2 linked regions of the Homo sapiens genome follow. The protein of the gene in region 1 purifies or fractionates together with the protein of each later gene. This does not show direct contact. Each region holds a gene or a part of one and is shown on either strand. Other genes may lie near its edges.

The links.
Region 2: the proteins of ASTL (region 1) and AMD1 purify together in Homo sapiens (affinity purification with mass spectrometry, with the first as the bait; one large-scale study listed by BioGRID). This does not show direct contact.

What each region holds. Positions count from the first base shown.
Region 1 is NC_000002.12:96,131,869-96,135,680, reverse strand, and holds part of ASTL (astacin-like metalloendopeptidase precursor), read left to right. Parts: intron 1-268; coding exon 269-330; intron 331-1,622; coding exon 1,623-1,716; intron 1,717-2,138; coding exon 2,139-2,256; intron 2,257-2,959; coding exon 2,960-3,141; intron 3,142-3,812.
Region 2 is NC_000006.12:110,884,646-110,888,457, reverse strand, and holds part of AMD1 (S-adenosylmethionine decarboxylase proenzyme), read right to left. Parts: intron 954-3,812; coding exon 867-953; intron 123-866; exon of another isoform or gene 52-122; intron 1-51.

The sequences.
Region 1 (3,812 bases):
TGTCTTTGTCCTCCAGCCCCCTCACACCTGCAGACAGTCCGCACAGGGTGGCTGACATTCTCAAACATCAACTAATGACTTAACTAAACACCCAGGCTCGGAGAGCCGATGACCTATACTTTTATCAGGCTATTTAAGAACTTATAAAAGTAACAATCCACTAGGAAAGACACAAGAATAGACTTAAGTAAGTAGGGATTTGCTTGGCCTGTCCCACGAGTCAGTGTTCTGGGGGACATGGGCCAACACGTCCTTCTTCCTTTCCCAGGGCTCATCCTGGAAGAAACCCCAGAGAGCAGCTTCCTCATCGAGGGGGACATCATCCGGCCGGTGAGTGCACACACTGACGTGTGTGGGTGCGGATAAGCCCACAGTTGGCGACAGGTCCTCTGAGCCCACCCTGGATGCCATGGGGCCTGATGTGTGAGGGACATACATAGCTTGGTAGATGCCTCTTTTTGTCAAGGTCAGAGCGACTGTTCTGTTAGGAAATAGGAATAAGCCAGCCTGAATGCTAAGGAAGGCTGGTATCTGAAGTGCTGGCACAGTCAGCCTGAGAGGGCTTCCTGAAGGAGGAGGTTTGAACACTTGACCCAGCTTGGTACCCTGCCCAGGGGAGGTGCTCAGCACTCGGGAGGTGCTCAGATAAAGGAAGAGATGAGCAAGGGTTGGCAGAGTGGCCAGTGGCAGATAAAGGGCCTGGTGGCAGTGGCGACCTAGGGATGGTGGAACAAGGAGTGATGTTGAGCCTGACCATCTTGGCTGTGGTCGAGGGGCCGCATCTGAAGGGAGAAGGTTGCTGGGGATTGGGGCGCCTTGCTAACAGAAAAGGGAACACTGTGCCCAGGATGGCAGCCATGTGTTTCAGGCAACTGCGAATGGCAGAAGGCTCCTGAATAGGACAGTGACCCAGGGGAAGGCAAGACTGTCCTGTTGGAGGCTGCCACTGACGGCACAGCCTCTGGCTGGGCAGGAGAGCCAGAGGCTGGCCCAAGGCTGCCCAGGAACTCCGGGGGCAGGGCAGACCCTCTGGGTTATGCAGTGAGTGCTCGGGCAGGTGGTGTGCGACCACCCGGAGCAGAATCAAATGCCTCCAGCCGATGGCACAGGCACGCTGGGGTGCTGTGGAGCCTGGGCACCGAAGGGCTCTGGTTGCTGGAGAGCAGAAGTAAGCAGCCGAGGCCAGGGTGCTGCCTCACTTTCACTCCATATGGCTCTGTTCCCATGATCGTCCCATGTTCAGGGAAGCCTGGTGGCTGTTCCCCTCTGGAAGGGGCACTGTCAACATGCTGGAGTGGGGCTGCTGGCCCAAGCCCTTCTGATTCAGGGCACCCTGGGGTGCTGGGCCTCCTAGCCAACATCCTCAGGGACTAATCTCTTGTTTGCTTGAGATTGAAATTCTTTCATCATAGGCCAAGGGACTGTCTTGTGCATCAAGGTTCATGTAGCTGGCCCCTTGCCTTCCACAGCTCTGTCCCATCTCTAATGGTCCCCCATTCCCATGCACACAGGTCCTGACTCCCACATCTTTGGGGTTCTGGTGCCCTGGGGTGTGGTACCCTTGGGGCACAAAGCTTGGGTGGCCTCTGTCCCCAGGGGTTGAACTGCTGCTCTCTCCTCAGAGTCCCTTCCGACTGCTGTCAGCAACCAGCAACAAATGGCCCATGGGTGGTAGTGGTGTCGTGGAGGTCCCCTTCCTGCTCTCCAGCAAGTACGGTGAGTGAGCATGGCGCGCTCCCTCCCTGCCTCAGCCCCTTCTTCCTAATGCGGCAGGTGTTCCTCTCTTCCCTTTTCCTCTTACACCATCACATCCCTTCCACCTCCCCACCCGAAGAACCTGTCCACAGATGCCCTTCTGTTGCTGAAGGTCTCCTGAGTAGGGAGGGTTAAAATCTGATGGGAAGGTATGTCGAGTGGGGATCTGGTTCCCCTTGAGACCATGCGGTGCAGAGGACAGTGACCTACCCAAGGCCACACAGCCAGGGTCTGTCTGGGGCCCAGCTTCTTCCTGGCACCACTAAGCTGCCCTTTCTTGATGCTATTTTGGGAGAGTGAGTTCAGAGCTCTGCTCCCAGACCCTCAGGTAGAGCTCAAAGACCACCAGGGCTCTGGGGGCTCAGCCAGGTGGTGTCTTCCAGATGAGCCCAGCCGCCAGGTCATCCTGGAGGCTCTTGCGGAGTTTGAACGTTCCACGTGCATCAGGTTTGTCACCTATCAGGACCAGAGAGACTTCATTTCCATCATCCCCATGTATGGGTAAGTGCCGGGGCCAGGATGCGTATCTCAGCTCGCTTCTGCGTTCAGCCCGGAATTAACTTGGCCATTGTCTAAAATGTATTCCTGGGCCCATCCTCCAGGGCTCAGTCTCCCTGCCCACCCTGAGGGGTCTGCCAAGTGTGAGCTGGACCTCCAGGGCGGAATGTGGGAAAGGGATGGGAACGGTGCTAGACCCTCCATTTACAAAGCCCTCCTCTCCCGGGGGACTCCATGAGGTGGTGAGGAGAGGAGGTTTTGCGGGGCAGACAGTGCGTGAGTCACTGAGTCCTGGCAAGTCCCCTAACTTCTGAGCCTCTTCTGTCCCCTCTGGGGTGCGAGTGGTGGCGATACCTGCTTCCTAGCTTGTCAGGGGCCTGAGGCAATTTGTGTGAAAGCCTTGGCTTAGGGCTGACCAGGAGGGTGTGCTCACTTAGTAAGCTGCTTCTGTCCTCTGTGTTCATATATCAGTTTCTGCAGCCTCCCTGCAGCCCAGGCTGGTGATGGGGGTCCGGTATGGCCATTTCACAGAAGTCCAGGCAGTAAAGGGGCCTGGAGAATGGTGAACCTGAGACTAGAGCCCAGAGTGGGGCCTGCCTGTTGGGAGTTTGTCTATCTTGTGTTGTGTGGGGAGGGAGAGCCCAGGTCTGTATGTCCGGAGGGATCTGGGCTGGCACTTACCCCACTTGCTCTCATCACCCTGCAGGTGCTTCTCGAGTGTGGGGCGCAGTGGAGGGATGCAGGTGGTCTCCCTGGCGCCCACGTGTCTCCAGAAGGGCCGGGGCATTGTCCTTCATGAGCTCATGCATGTGCTGGGCTTCTGGCACGAGCACACGCGGGCCGACCGGGACCGCTATATCCGTGTCAACTGGAACGAGATCCTGCCAGGTGAGCCAGGCCACACGCAGGACAGGCTGGTGCCGGGGAGGGGACAGCACGGCTTGGGCCCAAGTCGCCTGGTCCCCATGGGTGAGGCTATCCATCCTCCCCATCACCTGCCTGCTTCCTGTGGGGAAGGTGGGGGTCTCACTTCTGTCTGGTACCTGGTACCTGGAGGTGGTACTCTGGGTGCTGCTCTGGGCCCCAGGCCTTCCTCTACCCACCTGTAGTTGTGCCTTAGCTAGGGCGCCACCACCTGCTTTGTCTCGCTTCTCATCCCTGACACTGTCCTCTCCCTGGCGATGGGGCAGGCAGTGCCCATGATACCTGCTTGTTGAGTACTCTAGCAGCGGTCTCATGTACCAGATACCACCACCATGGACTGGGGCTGTGTGCCAGCTTGGGGAGCTGAGCCAAAGTGGGACCCCAAGGTAGCAGGCTGCACAAGCCAAGTGCTGGGCCACGGGCTGAGGGCAGCACTGTGGGGCTGGGACATGTGCCAGTGGTGCCAGTGAGCAGGCAGAAGGAACACAGACTGTGGCCATGGGAGAGTGGAGGCTGGAGGCAGGTGGGCTGTGGTTCCTGTGCTGGCAGCGGCTGTGTGGCGCCGGGGATCAGATCCTGGTGATGGTGGGGTCTCTCTCATTGTGGGCTTGATGGTCTGGTTCAGGAGGCAGGAA
Region 2 (3,812 bases), on another chromosome or scaffold:
CGCCTGTAATACCAGCTACTTGGGAGGCTGAGGCAAGAAAATCGCTTGAACCTGGGCGGCAGAGGTTGCAGTGAGAGGAGATTGCGCCAATGCACTCCAGCCTGGACAGACTGAGACTCCGCCTCAGAAAAAAAAAGGGGGGGAGGGGCTGTTTAGTCCAGTATCCCCCAGCAAGGCCCATCACAATATATACTATAAGCATTAAAAGTATTTATGGAATAAATTAACTCTGCAACTACAAAAAAGGTGATGAGCTTTTATATACCAATTAGACAACTGTATTTGTATAGAGAAGCTAACTTTCCCTTTGCCTGAACTTCTAATTAAGAGGTCCTTCTTTACCAATTGGGAGGAAAAGACGGCAAACACCTTGAACTGTCCGGTGAGGCTTCAAAACCTATGTCCTAGAAACATCCACGTTACACTAAATGTTTCCTTTTATACCATATTTTTAAGAATAATGTAAAAAAAAGGCTGGGCGCGGTGGCTCACGTGTATAATCCCAGCACTTTGGGAGGCCGAGGTGGATGGATCACCTGAGGTCAGGAGTTCAAGACCAGCCTGGCCAACATGGTGAAACCCCGTCTCTACTAAAAATACAAAAATTAGCCGGGCATGATGGAAGGTGCCTGTAATCCCAGCTCCTCAGGAGGCTTAGGCCGGAGAATTGCTTGAACCAAGGAGGCGGAGGTTGCAGTGAGCTGACATGGCGCCATTGCACTCCAGCCTGGGTGACTGAAACTCCGTCTCAAAAAAACAAAACAAAACAAAAAAACCCCCAGAACTACAACTGAGAGGAACTTAACTGTTTCACATTATGATTAGGACTGAAATTAGCTACCTAACACTTGTTTTACAGGACTTACCTGAGTACATAAGCTTCCTGCTTGTCAGTTTTTGTCACACTTATGATTGAACATTGCACATCCTTCAAAAGTATGTCCCACTCAGATCTATCATTTAACAAAAAAGTTACGATTAATCCACAATAGTACCCACCTACTCATAAAAATTACAAAGCTCACACTTTTTCTCATGAAGACCACATTTTTAATTAATATTGTACACCAACTTTTAGTTTCTTTCAAAATAATCTATATTGACACACCCAGATAAATGATAGGTATATTATGCTATATATGAAACAAAAATTGGTCATTATACTATGTATTTACAAATTACTTAAAGAAAAATAGGCAAAAAAATGTTCAAAGGTCCATAAACCAAGGTAAACCATTAACTAATCAATGATTACAGAAATTCAATGGGATACTTTGTCTATAAAATGTGCAGATTTTTAACCTTAAGAAACACTTAAAAAAAAAGAAGAGCATAATTTTACCAATCTAATTGGCATAGAAATTTAAAAGCCTGTCTGTCGGGACACAGTGAGTGATGTTACTCTTATAGCACTCACAAAAAACTGGAATGACTGCCAATTACAAGCATACCTAGAAGATTTTGGGAATACTACGCAGCTCTCCAAATGCAATGAGAAAGCCCGTTTAACAGGAAATGTGCAGTACAAGCAACCATAGCAATGAAGGTCATATGGACATGAAGAAACTAGTCTTAATTTGCCTGAGAATAGAATTAGGAAAGTGTTCATTCTTTCATTAGTGTGCCCATTATAAAAAGACAATGTAATTCCATGGAACAGCTTAACATGACAGATATTATTTTTTGAGACAGGGTCTCACTCTGTCGCCCAGGTTGAAGTGCAGTGGTGCAATCACAGCTCACTTCGGCCTTGACCTCCCAGGCTCAAGCAATTCTCTTGCCTTAGTCTCTCAGGTAGCTAGAACCACAGGCATGTGCCACCATGCCCAGCTGTTTGCCAGAAATATTTTTTAGGCCAGGCGTGGTGGTTCACGCCTGTAATCCCAGCACTTTGGGAGGCCAAGGCGGTGGATCACTTGAGGTCAGGAGTTTGAGACCAGCCTGACCAACATGGTGAAACCCTGTTTCTACTAAAAATACAAAAATTAGCCGGGCGTGGTGGCAGGTGCTTATAATCTCAGCTACTCAGGAGGCTGAGGCTGAGGCAGGAGAATCGCCTGTAATCCTAGCACTTTGGGATTGGGATGGCTTAAGCTCAGGAGTTTGAGACCAGGCTGGGCGATAGAGTAATACCCTGGTCTTTAAAAAAAGAAGAAAAATTTTTAAGCCTTATGATATCTGACAGGCCATTGCTCTACACTCATAAAAATGGCAAATCTTTTTTTTTTTTTTTTTGAGACTGAGTCTTGCTCTGTCACCCAGGCTGGAGTCCAGTGGCATGATCTCTGCTCACTGCAACCTCCACCTCCCAAGCAGCTGGGATTACAGGCACGTGCCACCACACCTGGCTAATTTTTGTATTTTTAGTGGCGACAGGGTTTCACCATGTTGGCCAGGCTGGTCTCATACTACTGACCTCAGGTGATCCGCCTGCCTCGGCCTCCCAAAGTGCTGGGATTACAGGCATGAGCCACCGTGCCCAGCCGGCAAATCTTTTGTTAACCAGATAAGACCTTTTGAGCGAAATCCAACAGCAAAATGTTTTTATTCGTTTGTATTAAAAAGCAAACACAACACCAAACATGCCTGGTAGAATTTTGTGCCTGTCTCACCATTTTGCTACAAGAAACTGTTACTGACCCATCTGCGTACCAATACCCATCCAAAAATCTTTAATGTGAAAGGCTTGCTAATGATTACAGAGCTGAGTTCCTGTATTAGACTATAACATGACTAAGCAACTTTTTTAAAAGAGCTACTAAAAAGTTTTAAGGTTCTTTAAAAAGGGTGCTAACAATTTGTTCATATATGGAAAGAATACATATGTGGGATATATACTGTGACAACCCTTGAAATTACCCCTGGCTTGTGTGGTGGCACACGCCTGTAATCCCAGCTACTCGGGAGGCTGAGACAGAAGAATCACTTGAACCCTGAAGGTGGAGGTTGCAGTGAGCTGAGATCTTGCCACTGCATACCAGCCTGGGCAACAGAGGGAGACTCCGTCTCAAAAACAAACAAACAAAACAAAAACAACAAAAACTTGGCCAGGCACAATGGCTCATGCCTGTAATCCCACCACTTTGGGCAGCCGAGGCGCATGGATCACCTGAGGTCAGGAGTTTGAGACCAGCCTGGCCAACATGGTGAAACCCCATCTCTACTAAAAACACAAAAAATTAGCTGGGCGTAGTGGTGGGCGTCTATAATCCCAGCTACTCTGGAGGCTGAGGCAGGAGACTGAATGCGGGAGATGGAGATTGCAGTGAGCCGAGATCGCACCACTGCATTCCAGCCTGGGCGACAAAAGTGAATCTCCATCTCAAAAAAATAAACAAACTACTCGTGGGAATGAAATCCTGCTTCACTTGACTAAGATAAATTTACAAAATCCTTGCAAAAATTATCTACTATTAAGACTCCCATTCCTGAATATGAAGGTAAATAAAAATATCCACTATGATTTAAGTATTAGAAACATTACAATTTCAGATTTTTAAAGAGCTTATCTAATTCAGGTCCATCAATAATGCTACCTGCTTAAGTCATCACCTACTGACTTCCCACTATAACTTATTCTTGCACATACTCCTTTTTACCCACTGGACGCACTAACAAATCCCACCCTCCCTTTCTCAGTTATATTCACCATTTCTATTAAGACTTTTAAACACGTTCCATGGCTGAACTAAACAGTGTAACAGTCTTTTCCTTTCTTATTTTTGTTTTCTCTTTTTTTAAAGGCTGTTGTGGCCAGGCACTGTGGTTCAGAGGCCAAGAAGGAAGGATCACGAGACCAGAAGTTCAAGACC